Linked DNA regions of Homo sapiens: region 2 is linked to region 1. Evidence: fine-mapped expression QTL. A gene starts in region 1. The other region holds a variant in brackets. All regions are shown on one strand. Distances are between the middles of the regions.

Evidence for each region. PIP is the estimated chance that this variant, and not a neighbour inherited with it, causes the effect.
Region 2: its variant is the best candidate, but not a certain one, in a credible set for the expression of MAMDC2 in prefrontal cortex (BrainSeq, PIP 0.61).

The regions. Positions count from the first base shown.
Region 1 is chr9:70,038,380-70,047,996 of GRCh38, reverse strand. MAMDC2 (MAM domain containing 2) reads right to left here and starts at 4,149. Exons shown (of 14, transcript NM_153267.5): 1 at 3,766-4,149; 2 at 3,300-3,413. The coding sequence starts at 3,799. LOC124902179 (a long non-coding RNA gene) reads left to right here and starts at 3,956. Exons shown (of 2, transcript XR_007061571.1): 1 at 3,956-4,043. RefSeq lists a silencer at 3,870-4,164 and an enhancer at 9,170-9,617.
Region 2 is chr9:70,064,967-70,074,583 of GRCh38, reverse strand. All of the region lies in intron 2 of MAMDC2 (MAM domain containing 2), which reads right to left. Among named protein-coding and RNA genes, the nearest start is that of MAMDC2, 26 kb to the right of the region's middle. The variant C/T (reference allele first, on the strand shown) is at 5,589.

The sequences.
Region 1 (9,617 bases):
CTGGTCAAAACTTACCTATTCTGTGTCCAGTGGAGATAAAGCATATTTTAAAGTGGCCATGAAATAGAGACACTCGAACTGTAATCAGGGACATCTAGGGACTTAATACTGTAAATCAAAGGCATGAACCTCAGAAACTATTTCAGGCAGCAAAGGGGATATTTAGAGACAAGGAGACTTTTCCAACTACCTCCAGATTTGATTCTCCTGTGATGAAACCCCAGTTCGCAGATTTGTGTCCCAACTTACCTTCCTTCTCTGGCCTTTTGCATTGTTCTCTCCACAATAAATTAACCTACGGACCATGGACATATAAGAAGTGCATCTGGCACATATGTTTATTGCAGCACTATTTACAATAGCAAAGACATGGAACCAACCCAAATGCCCATCAGTGATAGACTGGATAAAGAAAATGTAGCACATATACAGCATGGAATACTATGCAGCAATACCAAAGAGTGAGTTTATGTCCTTTGCAGGGACATGGATGAAGCTGGAAGCCATCATTCTCAGCAAACTAACACAGGAACAGAAAACCAAACACCTCATGTTCTCACTCATAAGTGGGAGTTGAACAATGAGAACACACGGACACAAGGAGGGGAACTTCACACACCGGGGCCTGTTGGGGGTGGGGCGCAAGGGGAGGGAGAGTATTAGGACAAATACCTAAAGCATGCGGGGCTTAAAACCTAGATGACGGGATGATAGGTGCAGCAAACCACCATTCACATTTATACCTGTGTAACAAACCTGCACATTCTGCACATGTATCCCAGAACTTAAAGAAAAAAAAAAAAAGAAGTGCATGTGGGCAAAAGTCTCTGAAACCCACTACTTTCCATGGTGGATCCAGTACATGAAGGTGAATGGAACCATGGAACCAGTTTCAAAGGGTTTCTGCAGGAAGAAGTGCATTTGCAGAGAAGCTTGTGAACAGCTTGCCAAATTTCAGCCTGGAAGAATTTTATTATCTTTAATTTACCAACCTAGAAATGGGCTTATAAGGGAAATTCTTAGCGATGTCTTCTTAGGCAACCACAGCAACTGCCACACACCTACCTCACTGCCCTGGAGCCTGCAGTACACTGTTACGTCCAAGTTCTGGCCTTTGACAAACTGAAGCTGGAACAACTGGAGCCTAACCTGCCTGCTCCACCCTGGAGTGCTCAGAGGAGAATGAATTAACTTCCGCCAGCCAACCCAGTAGTCCCAGTCCTGAGCCAGAAAGCAGTGGTTGTTAGAAAGAATGCAGAAAGCAAAGCCACAGTGCCTTCGTTATACTATTAAACTGTAATCACCTTTTTCTATAAGCATCTTCCTGTTTTCCCTGAAGGGGGATGGTTTAACTGCTGTCCTGGGGCAGAGGTGCCAACTCAGCAGAGAGACTTCCTGTGGGTCTGGGAGGCAGTTGTGTTCAGCAGGCTGTGGCATGCCCACTGACCAGAGGCAGGCTGTGAGGGGGCCCCCATCCTGACAGAGGGCCGGAGGCAGGAACTCAGAGACTAACTAAGGCTCCTGGCTTAAGGAATGATGTTGATTTCCTTTTCTCAGGGCCAGCACTAGGATGAGGCAAGCCAAGTGCTTAGGGAACAAGACTTAAGTAGCTGTTCACTCTCGGGTCCTGCAAGTAGCTCCTTCACCCTAGTGCCAGACCTACTCAGAGCCAACAACAGCACAGGTTGTGTGTGTGTGTACACAGACTGTGGAAGTCGGCAGTTCTCAAAGTGTAGTCCCGAGACCAGCATCATCAGCATCACCTGGGAACTTGTTAGAAATTCTCAGGCCCCCTGAATCAGACACTCAGGAAGTGGGGCCCAGCAATCTGTGTCTTACAAGCCCACCAGGTGATTCTGATGCAGCTGAGGTTTGAGAAGCCCCGTGCTGGAGGAGTGTGCTCTCCAAAGCCAGTCTCGTGGCATTTCTAAGGCCATCTCCCGCAATGCTTCCATACAGCCAGTATAGGGAAAGGGTGAGTGGCAAGATTACAGAGACTTTCCTAAAGCCATCAGCAAGATAGGAATCCCTCGAATAATAAATCAAGAATTGCTTTTTCCCAGCCACCCCTAAGTAGACTGTAGTAGTCAAGACTTGGCAATTGTTGGATAAAGATGGAGATTACTACTGAACCAGTTCCTTCCTGTTTCTTCCTAACTAGACACTCAGAGTTAGCCACTCAGTGACACTGTGATATGGACTAGCCATTTGAATATTCTATGGCTGAGATTCCTTCCTCTGTAAAACGGGTCCAACATCACCTACCTGTGAGGGTCAGAGAAGCTAATGTATGCAGAACCCTGAGTAGAAGCCTGGGGCAGAGTGAGCTGTGGTGACAGTTCATACATCTAACCAGGGGTTCCGGGCTCCATCCTCCCCCAGGGAGCGAGGTGGGAGGATCTGCGGCCTGAGGACAATTGAGTGGGGAAGGAGGTGAGCTGGTTTCATCTAGGGTACCATGTTTTTTAAAGAAGGCTATTTTCCAATCCAAATAGTCTGTGGGCATCAGGCTTCACTGGTGGTGACAAAAGAGAGAGAAAGGAAAGAAGGGACACCCAGTGCCGCCTGCCATTGGGTACTGAGAACCACACTTTAAAACAAAAAACAAAAAAAACTATATAAAGGCAAGATGACACTTCAGAAGACCCCACATTTAAACTTTGTCCTTGGGACCCAAACAGTATAGAGTAGTAAGACAATGACCACCAGTGAGACAGGGACCCCAGGCATTTGGCAGTGTACATGGTTTCTTTTGTCCAGGGCAGGATTACAAACAGGAGTGTGAGGATGAAATCATGCAGCAAAAAACACTGTCAGGGTCAAGGCAGACGTGATGTCTTAGCACTGACGTCCCATCACAGAATTGTGGAACCATTTCTGCAAAGCTGAAGGAGAACTAGTCCCATGCAACTTTTCCCAACTCACAGACATGTCTCCTGAGGACCAGAAAGGTTGCTGGCCTGCAGAGGCACACAGCTGGTGTGCCTGCAGAGGCCCACAGCGGAGAACAATCATTAGCTGTGCTCCGTTTCTCCCTTCCATTAAGGAGTGCTGGGGTGAGACGCAAATTTTAAGCTTCTACCCATAGGCCAGGTAAACAAAGGGCGGCCTCCCGCCCGCCCCGTTCCTGCCTCGGCCATCCCTTGCAGCACAGCTGAGGGCTTGAAGGAGGATCCATGACTCACACTTTTCTTGCCGCGGAGAATTAACTCCAAGATAACATTACCCATGTGGGAAAAAAAAGCAAGCCATCAAGGAAGAAAGTTCACTTCGCGCCCCTCTCCACCGAGCCTCCTTACCTTCCTCATTTAAAATCCACGGCAGAGAGGCCAACACGGAGTCAAAGCCGCAAGTGCTCTCTTCAAAGGCACAGGACCCAGCGGGCAGGTCGAGGGCACCGGCGAGCTGCAGGGCTGCGGGCACAAAGCGAGTTTCAGTTCGAGCTCCACCCAGGAGCCTTTGCACCAACTCGGGGAGCCCCAGGGGGACTACCTGGTGAAAGTGGGGGAAAGACGAGCGGGAGGGGGCGGGAGAGGGATGCAGTACCTGTCCCCCAGCATCCCCGGGCGCCTCCACTGAGCGACCCCACGCCCACCCCCACCCCCACCCCAGGCTTGGCCAGGGGAGGGAGTTAGCGGCTGCGGAGGATCAGGAGGCGCCCTCGGATGGCCCAGCCCAGCACGGTGAGCCGGACCCCCGGGGGCAGCAGGAGCGGGGGCGAGTCGTCAGAGCGCCCCCGGGGTTGTCCCGGGGTCCAGGCCTTACCTTGCAACGCCAGGAGGACGCCCCTTAACAGCATGGTCGCGTTTCAGGGAGGATGACTAGGAAGGGGTGCAAGTTGCCAGCCCGCTGGGACTGGCTGCTCCTAGTGAAAGGGATCGTGGGAGGCGGGGGCGCCGGGGACCCAAGGAGGGAGAAGTCGAGAGGCAAAGCTTGCGCTCTGAGCTGCCCAACTTTGCAGAGCGGCTCCCGGAGCCGAGCGGTATGCTGGAAGGTGCTCGAATGGAGAGCGCCAGCGCCCCGGCGCTGAGCAGCAGCCTCAGGTCAGACCGCGGCCCAGCTGGTCCTGGGCGACGATGGGGCTGGACAGGGAGGAGACAACTGCACACTTTGAAAGGCCAGCCACGACTGGCTGGGAGAGGAGAGGTCGGCCCGCAGTGCCTTCGCTCAGGATTTTAAAGCTTGGGACCAGAGCCCTTGCAGACACTTGGAAGGGGCAGGCCTTCCAGGAGTCCCTCCGCTGGGTTGGGACCCGAGGCTCCCGCCCCGCCCAGCCGCGGTGGGAACTCGCTTATTTCTGGGGACAGCTTCCCTGCATCTGGCATGTCAGTCCCGCAGGGCTGGCCCTAATTTTAACTTCTTCTCCCCAGAATGAAAGAGGGTGGAATTCTCCAAGGACAGCCTGGAGGAAAATTTGGAAACGGTTGGGTGGAATAAGCTTTATATCTAAGGAGTTTCAGCGTTTACGGTCCAGCAATGCTAACCCTGGAATACCACCCCCACTTTTTTTAGCCGGTGGAATGTCTGGCATGCCTGGTGCTCAGCATTCCCTCCGTCCGGTGAAATGGGGGCATTCCTTCTCTCCAAAGAGCCATGATAGATTGATTAATGGGAGGCTTTACACTGGGAGGGGGTTGTTGGGGAGGGAGTTACTTCTGAGGAAGCTGTTTGCTTTGGGCACTAAGTGGGTCTCCAACAATATTCTTTTCTTGTAAAGAGTTCTTCTTCCTCCCCTCCTCTTCCTCCTCCTCCTCCTCCTTTCTCCCATTTATAATTTTGTGCAGGCAATTTTGTGAGGAGGGCAGTGGTTTTAAAACCTGAGGGTGCATCAGAATCTGCTGAAGGGCCTCACCCTCCGTTTCCGATCCAGTAGCTCTGGAGTGGGCCTGAGAGGCTGCACGTCCCTAATAAGTTTCCAGAGGCTGCTGCTGCCGCAGCGGGTTTGGAACAATACTTTGAGGACCACTGGCCTAACAAACTCCAGTTGAGCCATCAGTTCAACCTGCTCCCATGCCTTCACCTGGCTTCCAGACCGCTGGGTTTCCTGGTCTTTCATTGGCCGCCGCTTCTCGGCCTCTTTGCGTTACCTCTGTAACCCCTTAACATGAGAGTGCCTCCAAGTTCTTCCCTGTCACTCCTGTTTCTTTCTCTATCCAGCCCCTCAATGCTGTCCTCAAGTCTCATAGTTTTAGATACCAATGATAGCCTGATAACTCCCACATTTATATTTCTAACCCAGACTACTCACTAACGCCAGACTCTTCGATCTCATTGCCACCTCAACATTTCCAATCGGATGCTTCAGAGCTATTTCATACTTAACAGGTCCCAACATGAAGGCTGCATATTTCTTGCCAAACCTGCCCGTCCCCTGTGTCTTCCTCATCTCAGTAAAAGAACTATTTTCCTCCAGTTGTTCAGGAGAGAAAACTTGGAGGCATCTTCAGCTCATCCGTTCCTGTCAGACATTGCCAATTTCTATCAGCTCAGGATTCAAAACACAGCAGATGCTGACCATGCTCTGTGCCCATGGTGGTGATGCCTTGGTTGGTCCAAGCTGCCCTTGCCATCAACCTGGGATACCGCAGTGGCCTCCTGACCACGGTCTCCCTTCATTTTCTGCCCTGCCCACCCTACTCTATTCTGAACACACTAGTCAGGGTTATCCTTTTAATACAGAAATTGGGCCATGTCACTCCTTAGCTCAAGACCCAACAAGTTCCCAAGTCATTTAGTAAAGTCCAAAGTCTTCACGATGACCAACCAGGCCCTATAGGACCTGCTCCACCCTTTTCTTTCTTTTCTTGCTTTCCTTCTTTTTCTTTTTTTGAGACAGAATCCCACCCTGTCACCAGGCTGGAGTGCGATCTCTGTTCACTGCAAAGTCCACCTCCCAGGTTCAAGCAATTCTCCTGCCTCAGCCTCCCAAGTAGCTGGGATTACAGGCGTGTGACACCACGCCCAGCTAATTTTTGTATTTTTAGTAGAGACAGGGTTTCACCATGTTGGCCAGGATGGTTTCAATCTCTTGACATCATGATCCACCTGCCTCGGACTCCCGAAGTGCTGCGATTACAGGCGTGAGCCACTGCACCCAGCCCCACCCTCTTATTTCTCTGACTTCAATCACCCTGCTTACTCTTCTCTAGCCACACAGACCTCTTGGCTGATCCTCAAACACAGTCCAGCTATCCTTTCAGAATTTTGCACTGGCTGTTCTTTCTGCTCAAAATGCTCTTCCACAAAGAGCCACACAACTCACCGCCTAATGAGGTCTTCACTCAGATGTCACTTTCAGTATTAGAAAATTAGTAACCTTCTCCCTAATAAGGAAAATATATCTGGAATCCTTTTTTAAAGGTAGGAACAAATTTTCATGTGTTTTCTGTAAACAATGATTCAAATGGTCAAAAATTTATTCATTAGTGTGTGCTATTTGGTGTATATGTATCTTTTTTTATTTATATGCTTTGCCTCAGGTAGTAGCTAATAATAACATTTATTGTGTTTACCATTATAAATGTTTTATGTAGATAATCTCATTTAAGCTTCACAAAATCTCTACAGGATAAATATGTTCATTATCCCCATTTAATAGATGGGGAAACTGAGGCACAGAGTTCAGTGACTGTGGACAGTAGAGACAAAACTCAAACCCAGATCTGCTTTATTCCAAAAGCCTATTTTCTCAACCAGTACAGGACTTCTCTCACTTGGGTCTTATATTCTTTTTTTTTTTGACTTCTTGATCACAGATGGTGCTAAATATCTGATGAATTTCATCACACTACTTAACTAAAAATTCAAAGACAGTTATACATTCAGTCGAAACCTCAAAACATTATTTTCAACTAAAGAAGTTTTCAGCAACAATCAAACTGGTGCTCCTTTTTCCAGATACTTAAGGAGTATTTCAAAGTTTTAGAATTGCCTTAGATTCATGTCGTATGTTCTAAGTCATAGGAAAATGAAAAACTTCAAAGCCCTAAAGAGATCCTTCCAAAATTTAAAATATGATTTACAACCTTAACGTGACATTGTGTATTGCCACCTATGGGAACAGAATCATACATAAGTACAAACTCAGACCAAATTTTCTATTTTGCATATAATTGTTTGATCCCAAGAATATATGATCCTTAGACATTGGCACAAGTTAGAATGTCTGGGAAGCAGACTCTGATTTGAAGTTTAATGTGCAGGGTGTTTAATCAGGAGTACCTTGGGATCAGTGCCATGGAAGGGAGGGAGAGGAAGCAGGAAAGGGTGGAGGGAGAATTGGAGTTGCAATGCAAATCCCACAAAGCTTCTTTCAATCCCCCAAGGAACTATGGAGTTAAAATGGCCTATCTAACTTGTCTCATGTTAGGCTGAAATGAAAGGGCATTTGTACTGCTGTCTCCATCTGTCACTGGTTGTGGCCTATGCTGGGACAGAAGTGATCTCCAGTGAGGCAGCTCTCTGCACTGGGGAGGATCAGAAGTTGAAGGCCGATGACAATACTCCAAGCCGCTGGGACTAAAAGTCATTTCTTGAAGGGGGATCTGGACAGCATAAAAATGCCTACCACAGACGTTTTGCAGAGAAAGGAAAAAATATTGTATGTGGCCTAAGTCAGGATGCAGGGAAAAAGACTGAGGAGGGAAGCCAGAGAATCTAGAAACTACGTCAACCAACTTCCTTTGGTCACTAATCATAGCACCCACATGGTACCCTCTTATTACTTGGGAAAACAGGATCAGGTCCCAAGGAACCCAGAATGCTATTCTCCAAGATTTAGCTTAAGCAACTGATCAAATAACACATATCAAGTTCTGGCTTACAGAAAGCACTCAGTACTTAGGTATTGTAATAGGTTGAATGGTGGCTCAAAAGATACATCCGTATCCCAGAATCTGCAAATGTGACCTCATTTGGAAAAAGGGACTTTGCTAATTTAATTAAGTTAGGGATCTTGGGATGAGATCATCCTGTATTACCAGGTGGGCCCTAAATCAATGGCAAGTATCCTTATAAGAGTCAGAAGAAAAGGCACAGACACATGTAGGAAATGGTCACGTAAAGATGGAGATGGCATGTAAAGAGATTGGAGTGATGCAGCCCCAAGCCAAGGAATAACAAATTCTCCCCTAGAGCCCCAGAAGACTGTATTCTGCAGACACCTTGATTTGGGGCTTCTGGCCTCTGAAACTGTGAGTGAATAGCTTTCTGTTCTTTTAAGCCACCCGGTTTGTAGTAATTTGTTCTGGCAACCATAGAAAACTAATATAGAGTGCATTAAGTAAACACATGCCAGGCACTTAACATGCATTATCTCATTTAATCCATGCAATATCCCTATGAGGTGAATATCATTATTGTCCCCATTTTATAGACTAGGAGACAGGACCAGAGGGGGTCAATTAACCTGCTCAAAGTCACACGTCCAGCCAGCATGCAGCAAGGATTTGATCCCAGATGCCCACTTCTCCTGGCTATCCACTATGCTGCCCCTAAATGCTTCCTCCTTACACAGGCCTGTCTCTCCTAATGAGGGCTGCCTACACCACACACAGACACTATGCCCTGCTCTCTCTGTGGGTTCCTGTATGATGCTCACCTCTCACAGAGCCTGCCCATCCTCTCTGCTCTTTGCCAATCTGTTCCTTGCGCCCTCCAGGTACCTTTCACCAGGGGCTCTGCTCCTTGTTGTACCACTTCTAGCCTGGAGATCACCAAGTTCTTGCTTCTAATTTTCTGGGTCAAGGTGAGGAAGATGAAGCATTGCTGCTCCTCTCTATCCAGTGTCTTCCCACATAGCCAGGTGAGGCATTGGGGGGTGTGAGCAAATCTGTGGGAAGAAAGCAAGAAAGCCAGCATTTATGATTGCACCTTTGACTGCACTACAGAGGTTAGCCAATCTCAGAGTCTGTCTTTACTGCCCACTTTCCCTTCTGTTTTCTTTCTCTCCTTGTTAGTCTCACGCAGTGTCATGCCATGATAAGCTCAGCAAACATTTCCTGAGCACCTACTGTGAGCCAGACACTATGCTAGGGGCTGGAAATCCAGGGGTCAAGAAGACACATCCTCTGCTGCTGAGACAGGAGACTGACCCATGAGACAATAATTTCAATAAAATATGTGGATGAGATAGAATTAAGGCTGCAAATATAAAAAGTCTAGAGGCCAAGGAAGTCACGTAAATGAATGGAGTGATCTGGTAACACGGAAGAAATAGGGAGGGATGGAGACTGTGGTTAACTGGAGTAAGTAAGTCCAACTAAAGGGCATTACAGAAACCATCTCTACCCCAACTGCTCATGTTTCAAAAGAAGCCCAATATTCAGATATGTATATAACAACTCCTGATTTTCAGATGCCATTCCATTCCATTCCATTCCATTCCATTCCGTTGCATTCCATTCCATTCCTTTCCATTCCAATCCACTCATGTTGATTCCATTCCATTCTATTGCATTCAAGGCCACTTCATTCCATTCCATTCCAATCCATTCTTTTCGGATCCATTCAGTTTAAATGCATTCCATTCCTTTCCACTCCATTCCATTCCATTCCATTCCATTCCATTCCATTCCATTCCATTCCATTCCATTCCATTCCTCTCGAGTTGATTCCAT
Region 2 (9,617 bases), 27 kb before region 1:
GGAAAGCAAGCCAGGCATCTCCTCTGCCTACCGTCTTGCTGTCCCAACCCCCTGCAGACAGTGACCTTTAAGGGTACTGCAGCCTCTGCACACTGGGACAGGTGAGGCATCCAGGTGAGAGAGCCACTTACCCTCAGGGTATTGCCCACTTTGTTTGCACATGCCCCATTGTCCCCTTGGATTTCAGTTACAGAACAGACTCAAACATACATCTCTTAAGAATTTCAAAATGGTTTAACTGTCTGCTTTTCACTGCAGCAGTCACATGCCCATGGAACCTTAAAAGTTGCATAAGTTTTAAGTGCATCTTGTAGGAAATGCCCTTAAAAATTATCTTTACTTTCCATCTTCTTGCCTGAAATACATTCATAATAGATGGAGAATTTGCCACTGCCTGAGACCATGAGGATAAGGGCCACACTTAGGAATGGCTAAGCATGAGTTAGAAGGAGCCTGGATGTCAAACAGCATCCTTTCATTTAAAGCTATTAAGGGCAGGGTTCTTACCCTGGGGTAGAGGATTTGATTCCAGAGGTTCATGACATCATACACAAACTATTACATGTCTGTTTTTCTGGGGAGAGAATCCATGGCTTTCATCAGATTCTCAAAAGGGCTCATGACCCCAAGAGTTTAAGAAACATGGCTGGAGGACAGAGCTTTGAACAGCTGCAGACAGAGTTCTCTTTGGCTGTTTACATGTTGAAGTAATCACAGGCACTGTTAAGACCAATGTAAGATGTAGAAGAGACAAACATGGATAAGACACCATCAGGACTGGAATGATGAGAGAAGGGGCTTGTGGCCAGGCCAGGAGAGAAACTCTAACCCCTTCCTTCCCAGCACTCGTCTTGGTGAGATGAGATTCATGGTTTATACCAGAACCATCAACAACTTTTACTTGATCACTATTTGAAAATTGCTAGGATCCTGTATATAATTCACATTATTTGAAAGCTGCTAGCATACTGCCTATGAATCACTGCAGAATGGTAGTTTTTTCCAACTAGTCTTTTCAATGTCCTCGGCCAAAACCCAGAGTTCATGAGACCCTTTAGTAGCTTAAGGAGAGGTATCCAAGCTGCAGAGATCACATTGACATTTGAAGTGACCATTCAGGAATCTGGACAAGATAAAGTGAGAGTCCACTCCACAAGAATTTCCTCTTGGGATGAATCAGCCCCTACACCAGCTCTTATTTTTGTTTTGGTTTTAAAACAACTAGGAACCTTTATTATAAATATTCAGTGCTCTTCAGGTACAAGATGTACAAGTACCACAAATTAAAACAAACTTGGCTTATCAGAAGTGAAAGCCTTCTTCCTTTTAAACCACGTATTTTCAGATATTTAAGCTTGGCAAGACATTTGCAGATATGTAAGCTTTACTTGCACTGCCTATTTGTCATTTCCTTACACAAATCTCTGTTGCATCTTAAATAGAAATAATAGGCTGGATTCAGTGGCTCACACCTGTAATCCCAGCACTTTGGGAGGCCAAGGTGGGGGATCACTTGAGGTCAGGAATTTGCGACTAGCCTGGCCAACATGGTGAAACTCCATCTCTACTAAAAATACAAAAATTAGCTGGTGTGGTGGCACATGCCTGTAATCCCAGCTACTCGGGAGGCTGAAGCAGGAGAATCGCTTGAACCTGGCAGGCGGAGGTTGCAGTGAGCCGAGATTGCACCACTGCACTCCAGTGGACAGAGCGAGACTCTGTCTCCAAATAAGAAAAAAAAATAGAATGAAAATGTGTTTTCATCTTTTTTTAAAAAAAATTTGCTTTTTTTGCCTTTAATTTTTAGTGTACTTTTTTTTGTCTTAACCTTTTCTTTTCTTAAATGGCAGAGATAGACACAATTATTTAGCTCAAAGAGACAATACAGTCTCATGGTGAAGAATCCACACTCCCTAGATTCAAATTCAACTCAATATAGCCTGGGCAAGTTACTTAACTTTTTTCACCGTGCCACCATTTCCTCATCTATCGGTGGGGATAATAATAATACCAATGTCCAGCTCATAGATTTGTTGTGAGGATTCAATGAATTATGGCTGGTATATAGAAAACATTGATAAGTATAAAGCTACTACTATTATTCTATTAGATACAGTATCACCATTCTAAAATTAAGAGCATTTGTAATCTATGTTGGAAAGGACTAGAATTCAGGATGAATTCTTGAGTTCTTACCTTGAGGAAAGAAGCCTCAGCCAGACTCAGGAATGTACTCATTGGAAACTTGGGCTTTAGGCAGATCAGTCACCCCACAGTGGGACTGGTGATCATGGTGAACCACATTTATTTGAGCACCTCCCGGGTTATGCTGAGGTGACACTGATGGTCAGGAAAACATGATACATTGTACTTTACATCAGAATTTAAAACAAAATAAACTAGGTGAGGGTCAGTATCTTCTACCTTCCCCAAATTACCAAAACACTAAAGACTTTCTAATAATAAATAAATCTGAAATTATTATTGTCAGTCATATTGATAACATCTACTTAATTGACAGCTGATCTTTAATAAACTCGATAAGGTTTTAATACTGAGCAGTACCTCAAATAGTCTAAACGAGGGCTCTTTTAAACATTTTACATTTGAATTTTAAAATTCAGCCTCTCAAGTTACCTCCTTCATATTGTATTTTGTAATGTACTTGTAATATGCTTCCAGAAACTTTTAGGTAAATTAAAGAGAAACGCCAATTTCATTTTTGGTCCCTTCCTTCAGCCTTTGTTCATCTATTCATAAGTAATATTCTCCAAGCTCACGTGCTCTCCCTCTGCCCCCCAACTTATTAATTTTTTTTAAATATTGTCTGTGTGCATTCTCTCCAGAATTGCTGGCTGTTGATACTCTTTCTCATCAACTCCCCAAATGGAAATGCTTTCAACCACTGCAGAAGTAAAAAATTACCCAAAGGCTGTATGATGCAAACTCTTTCTTTGGCTTTATCTTACTGATAAGAATAAAAATAACACCTCACGTATGTATAGAATATTAAGGTTCACAAAACACTTTGTGTCTCCACCGCCTTCATTAACCTCACCACAATCCAGGGAAATAAGTAAGGCATATGACAATTCAGCTCAGAGAAGTTAAATAAGCAGTCATTTCAATCCTACGAAATTAGAAGATCATAAAAATATTTTCACCAAAACCCTAGACTTATGATTCATGCTTGGTTCCTTAGCTAATTATTTCTACTTGCATGGAAAAAAAATAGAGTAAATTCTGAATTCTGGAACCCCTGGGCTGTAGCACAGACTCTTCAATCAGGGAATTTTCTGATTTGTGAAAGGAAACTATGACATCTTACGTAAATCAAGTACTACTCTCGAGTTTTCCTTCATCTCACGGTTGGTCTTCCTTACAAGGAATAGATACTTAAAACATATGGTAAAGCACACACTATTAACCCAACACAATCCAAGTTAACTCTATCAAAACCAGTACCAAAAAGGCCTCTCATTCTGACCTTCTGAAAACTGTCTGTGGAGGAATTCCACTAGGTCCTTTTTCATTTCCTGTTTATAGAGTTCTGGACGGTGGATATTTGGCATTAAAAGGTTAGTATAAATAAATGACCATTGATATGCAAATATTTAATTGATCATGATTTTTTGAAGGCCTTGCAAATAGCAACACTATTTATCGAAATACTTTTTAGTGATGTTATATATTTATATCTCAGAATATTTACCTTAAAAAGGAGGGAGGAAAAAATTGACTGTAGAAATGGCAGAAAAATATATTCTGCTATAGAATATATGTAGGAAAATAGGCAAATAAGAAATGGGATAAGACAGTAAGTACAGTAGGCAAGGATCTATGACAAATCAATACCTATAAAGATGGACCCAAAATAGACTGAAGTTTGAATATAATTCAGTACTCAACTTGCAGGCCACAAGACTATATCATAGATGAAATATATTGTTATAAGATCTTCTTGTCTCTCTAATCAATCAAACATTCAATTAGTAGGAAGTTACTGAACACCTACTATGTGCTTAGCCATGCATATTCAATGATGCAAATCTCTGGATGTTGCTCAACACCTACAGATATTTATACTACATTGCAGTGAGTGGGGTTTTGTAGAGCTGATGGCTCAAACTCCCTACCTTTTACCTTACTTCTTTAAAACAATAGGCTCAGATTAAGATAAGGAAACTCCGCTCTCCAAAAAAGAGGGTGATTCCTCAAACTGTTGATAAGGACTGAGCCAAATTTTCTTTTCTTAGCAGTGGAGCTAAAAAGTCTATAAGGCCACATGGAGTTAGCCTTTTTCTCTTTCTCTTTCCACATGCCTGGAGTGAAAAGGTCCAGGACCAGTCTTCCATAGGATAAAGATAGACCTTGCTTTTTCTCCTCCCAAGGAGCAGTCAGGCCCATGCCCATTTTGTGCCTGGATATTTCTTAGGAAGCTCAAGAAATCACAGAGTTACTGGCCAAGGAAGGATTTAGGTATTAGTGAATCTCCCACATAGTATGTTGGTTTCTAACAATGCACAGTGAAAATACAACCTCACTCACCCTACGCTATTTCCAAAGTTCAGCTCATCCCTTTTGCAAACACCTCCCCCTGAGTGGGATCTTGGAGCAGTTTCAGGCAGGGTTGCAAAAAGACACATTGAGACTGTTATTCTTAGTTGAGGAATATGTCAAGAGGAATAAATTCTTCTTCAGCCAAGATCATGCTGACATGAAAACGATGTCCTAGGAAACAAGGCGAGAACAACCAAAAGAACAAATGTTTCTGGCTGAAATTCTTCTCCAACTCTTCCTGTAACTCTTCAGGAGCAAGAAATTCCAGAAAGCAAAGCCATTCCCTCCCAGGTGCTAAAGTGTGGATAGGGACCAATGCTAAATATTGACAATCATCTTCAAAAAGTTCTCCATCTCAGGAGTTGGAACCTTTTCCCTTTTCTATTTTGAAACAAACTTTGGACTATTTTTAGCCTCTACTAGCCATTAAGGAACAAAGTAGCTTTCAATGTTAAAACTTATCAGGTATCCTATTCTAAATAAATTATCCAAAGACTATGCATATTTAAAAATTTGCTTTTGACCCTATCGTCTATAAAGTGTTTACAATGACAAGCCTTGGCTGTTTGATACACAAAAACTTTGAGGCTCCTGAGGCTTATGTTAACATTACGTTAGCCAACAAAGCAGGTGGAGATAACAGCTGCATAAGAAAGTTGTGCTATAATTTGAGAAACACTTAAAATACCTGTGGCTATAATAAATATAATTACTATTAATAATCATGTGGCTCTTTACACTTGACCAGGAAAGTAATAACTATGTTAACAGAAAAACAAAACAGGAACAACAAGAATAATAACTCTTTTGGTGTGCATGCAACTGAAATGGCACACATGAGATGAAAAATCTGTGACAGAAAGAGAAGGTACTGTCCAGGGGATTCATAAGCCAAGGCTGAATCTCGGGTTTCCTCAGCTTATTCCTCTCTTGTGCACACACAATCCTTCTACCGGGTTCTGCCCCTTCCAAGCAATAGCAAATTCTTCCACACTGTTGTTTGCTGCAATCACATTGAACCATTCTTT[C/T]ATTGGAATAAATTTTGTTACCTATTTTTGAGGCTTTGCCTTATATCTGCCTTGCTTTACCTAACTTTTAAATCATACCCATTCATTACAGCATTGTAATGTCTACCTCTTTAAGAAAACTTTTCTGCTGTCCTCTGTCCCCTAATAAAACTCTTCCGTTCTTTGGACCTGGAGACATGCTTGTATCTGTCCTGTTGCACATATCACATTTGTCCTGGAATTTAGATGTTTGTTTCCTGTTCCCTATTGCCTTTTTTTTTTTTTTTTTTTGTGATGGAGGGAGTCTCACTCTGTCAACCAGGCTGGAATGCAGTGGTGCGATCTCACTGCAACCTCTGCCTCCCGGGTTCAAGCAATTCTCCTGCCTCAGCCTCCCGAGTAGCTAGGATTACAGGTGCCTGCCACCACGCCCGGCTAATTTGTTGTTGTTGTTGTATTTTTAGTAGAGATGGGGTTTCACTGTGTTGGCCAGGCTGGTCTCAAACTCCTACCTCAAGTGATCTACCCACCATGGCCTCCCAAAGTCCTGGGATTACAGGCATGAGCCACTGTACCTGGCCCCCTATTGGCTTTTAGTCTTTTGAAGAAAAGGTCCCTGCCTCCACTGTCATTGAATCCTATCCAGCCCAGTGCTCCCTACCCCCACAGAGGAGGTGCTCAATAAATGCTGTTGCACTTGATCCCCAACTCCAGGCTGTGCCTCAAATACAGGCTACTCTAGATGCAGAGTGATTATCGTGCCTTTTAAGAAGTAGCATCTGTGCCCAGAATACTCATAAAATAGCCCTTTGCCTATTTCACAAGCTAACCAAAATAAATATTTTTATAGTCTCTCATACTTTTGAGATGTCAAAACCATCAAGCTTAACTCTTCTCTGGATTCTCTTTATAAGTCCTATACCAGCTCACGATGGTAGCATGCTTTAAAGTTTGTAATTTGTATCAGCTCAGACGAGTTCATTTGAGCCACACAGGACTCTTTATGGGATACACAGATTAGGGATTCTCTTCATTTTAAAGATGTTGAAAATAAAATGTAGACAAGTCCTTGTATAAGATCACATGGCTCAGCACATTCAGACCTGCATGGGGCTGCCCAAGGTGGCACACTGAGGTCTGCTTCTCTGATCTAGTGACTCAATGAGGAGTTTTTGTCATGGCAACACCACACTGGTGGGCCATACTGGCAGGCAGGCCTATTGCACCTAGAAAGAGTGTCTAAGAGATGTTTTCCTCATAAACAATGTGATTTTCTTAAATTATCCAAATGAGCTGCATCTCCCACTTACATCACCGAACTGAAAGATCCTATCCTTAGATAATAAACACATGTAAGATCATACCAGCCAATGACTGGCCCCTAGGATCACCTGAGCTCCTTTTCAGATGAAAGAGCTTGGAATCAATTACTTTTTGCTCACTGTACACTTTTTGTCCTGTACTTGATAACTTTGCTGAAGGTAGGGATATGGGCAACCTTTTTCCTAAAATGTGTAAGGTAAATGAGTTCCACTGCAGAGCCATTTGATGGGATTGTTGGTAGCTGCCCGGAAATCTACTGGAAGCTGTATCTGAGCAAGCAGAAAAGAGTATCCTGACAATATCTATGCCACAGATGAGGGACAGGGAGTGTCCCTCCATGGGATGTGGAGATGCTGTGCTGCAGATCCCTCTTCAGGACTGAAGGGCTTATTACTCCAGATGGTGGGACAGCCACTGGAAAGCAGCCTCCCCTGGTCAGCCCTCTCTGGGGAATGCCTTCAGTGAAAATAGCTGGCACATCCAAGATCACATGCCTTTTTCTGGATACTAGACACAGGGTTTAACCCTCTTTCCCCGACTTGGAAAAACACAAAAGTGTCATCCCGGAGCTAGAACATCCATGAAGTAGGCTGAGGCCTTCACTGAGGTTGCATTGCCACACAATTTCTACCTCTGTCCAGTCCTGATTCTTCCCTTTCTCTTCCTCAGGTGTTGATCCCAGGAGCACCCTCTCATAAACTTCCTACTTGCTAATCTCCTTGGGGTTTGCTTCTAGGGAACCCACCTGCAACAAGGAGGAGTGACAGAGGTCCCAGATATTGATGAACTTAATTCATTAATTTATTAATTGAGTTGTTTATGTGTTACTTTATCGGCAAATCCCATTGGCTTTATTCTTCAAATATATCCTTAATAAGACCACTTCCCACTTATCTCTACTGTGACCCATCAGCACCATTGCTAGTACATACTTTTAGCACCAGCATGCAATTTAGCAAAAGACAGATGAATTGTAGAAAAACCCCCACTCTGGGATGCCAATTAGAAAAAGATAGCTTTTCCTTTTGGCTGGCACAACCCCTGGCTTGATGAGAAAAGCCAGATGCCTTTGGGTAGCGAACAACCTGTACCATCATACACCATGGCCCTGCAGTAACCCTTCCTAAGCCACTATGATCTCTTGTCTGAACTGTAACCTCTAGCTGCCCCCCTACCTCCCCTTCGCCCTTGCACAGTATACTACCTACACCAGCCTGCGAGATTCTTCTAAAAGGAAAAGAGACGTGACCTTCCTCTTCTCAAAGTCACCCAGTTCCCACTTATTCAGGTAAATCCTGTTAGTTCCTAAGTGCTCTGGCCTGGCTACCTCTTGCTTCATTTTCTACTACTCTGTCTTGCTCCTATTCACTCTGTTCCAGGCACACTGGCTTCTTGACAGTTCTTCATATTCACCAAGCACCCCCTTTCCTCAGGGATTTTGCCCTTGCTTTCCCCTCTGCCTGGAGCACTTGGAACCTGGAGAGTCGCATGTCTGGCTGCCCCATTCCCTTGGGTCTCTGCTGAGCTGTGACAGAGGTCTTTCTGAACTGCCCCAATCTTCCTTCATACCTATCCTCTTACCCTAATTTTTCATAGGACACGATACCATATATGATTATTTATGTGTTTGTGAATGTCATGTTTCCCCTTACCAGAATATAAGTTTCAGGAGAGTCGGAACTTTGTTTCATTCACTACTATATCCCAGGCCCTACATTATGATTTGAAATACTGTGGGTATCAATAGATTCTCTTGAAAGGAAAAATGACTAAATAAACAAACTTGCTCAAGAACAACATTTGGCATCCACTAAAACTTCTGCAAACATGCAAGGAATAGGAGGGTGGAAAAAACAATGGGAAAATGTTCATTAGGGCTATGCAATGTAAGAATCATGAGCTTTGGTAATTGTTACAAAAATAACAAGTGAAATTGTGAAATAATTTTGGTAGAAACACAGTGTACTCCACTCAATGTCTCAACCCAATGACCAGGCCAGGGATTGGAGTGAAGTACACGTTTTCTATCAAAATGCAACATCATAATTTTACATGGTTTTTCTGCCTTATTCTAACTTTCAGGGGCCTCCATGTATTAAAAAAAAAAAAAAAAAGGACGTGGGGTTTTGACTCCTGCTTGGATGAGACACAGTTTATTCTCTTAGATGAAAATTACATCATTTTTCCAATTAGGATTTTTCAAAGCCACCAGAATAGAAATGTGCTTTAGGCATCTCCTAAAGCAAAGCCATTTAAAATAGACTAAAATACTATTTTAAACTACCCAAATATTTACATATGGATAGATTAGTAGTCATCAAAACTCTTGATTTTCTGGACAGAAAGAGGGATTCTTAAGCTGGAATATATTTTATTTTAATCCGTGACATTTTGTGCAACATAAATAGCAAATCTTATCAATATGGAGAAGTTGAATGTACTAGAATGTTCACCACAAAACACCTTTTCAAAGGCAAAAATGAGTTTTCAATAATAAGGTTCTATTTTACACTTGCCTTCAAGATTTAGAAAACCGATACACATGGTTTTTGGATAAGTAGCTCGTAATCCCTGTTAGTCGTTTCTCTAGTATGTTTCCTGTGTGATTTTGACAGAGGGAGGTTTTACTGATTGATTCTTTCATTATATTTCATATAGACAGATGGAGCTAAGATTAAGTATTTTCCCTAAATATTAATTCACATGAAGCTCTTGAATGTTGATTCC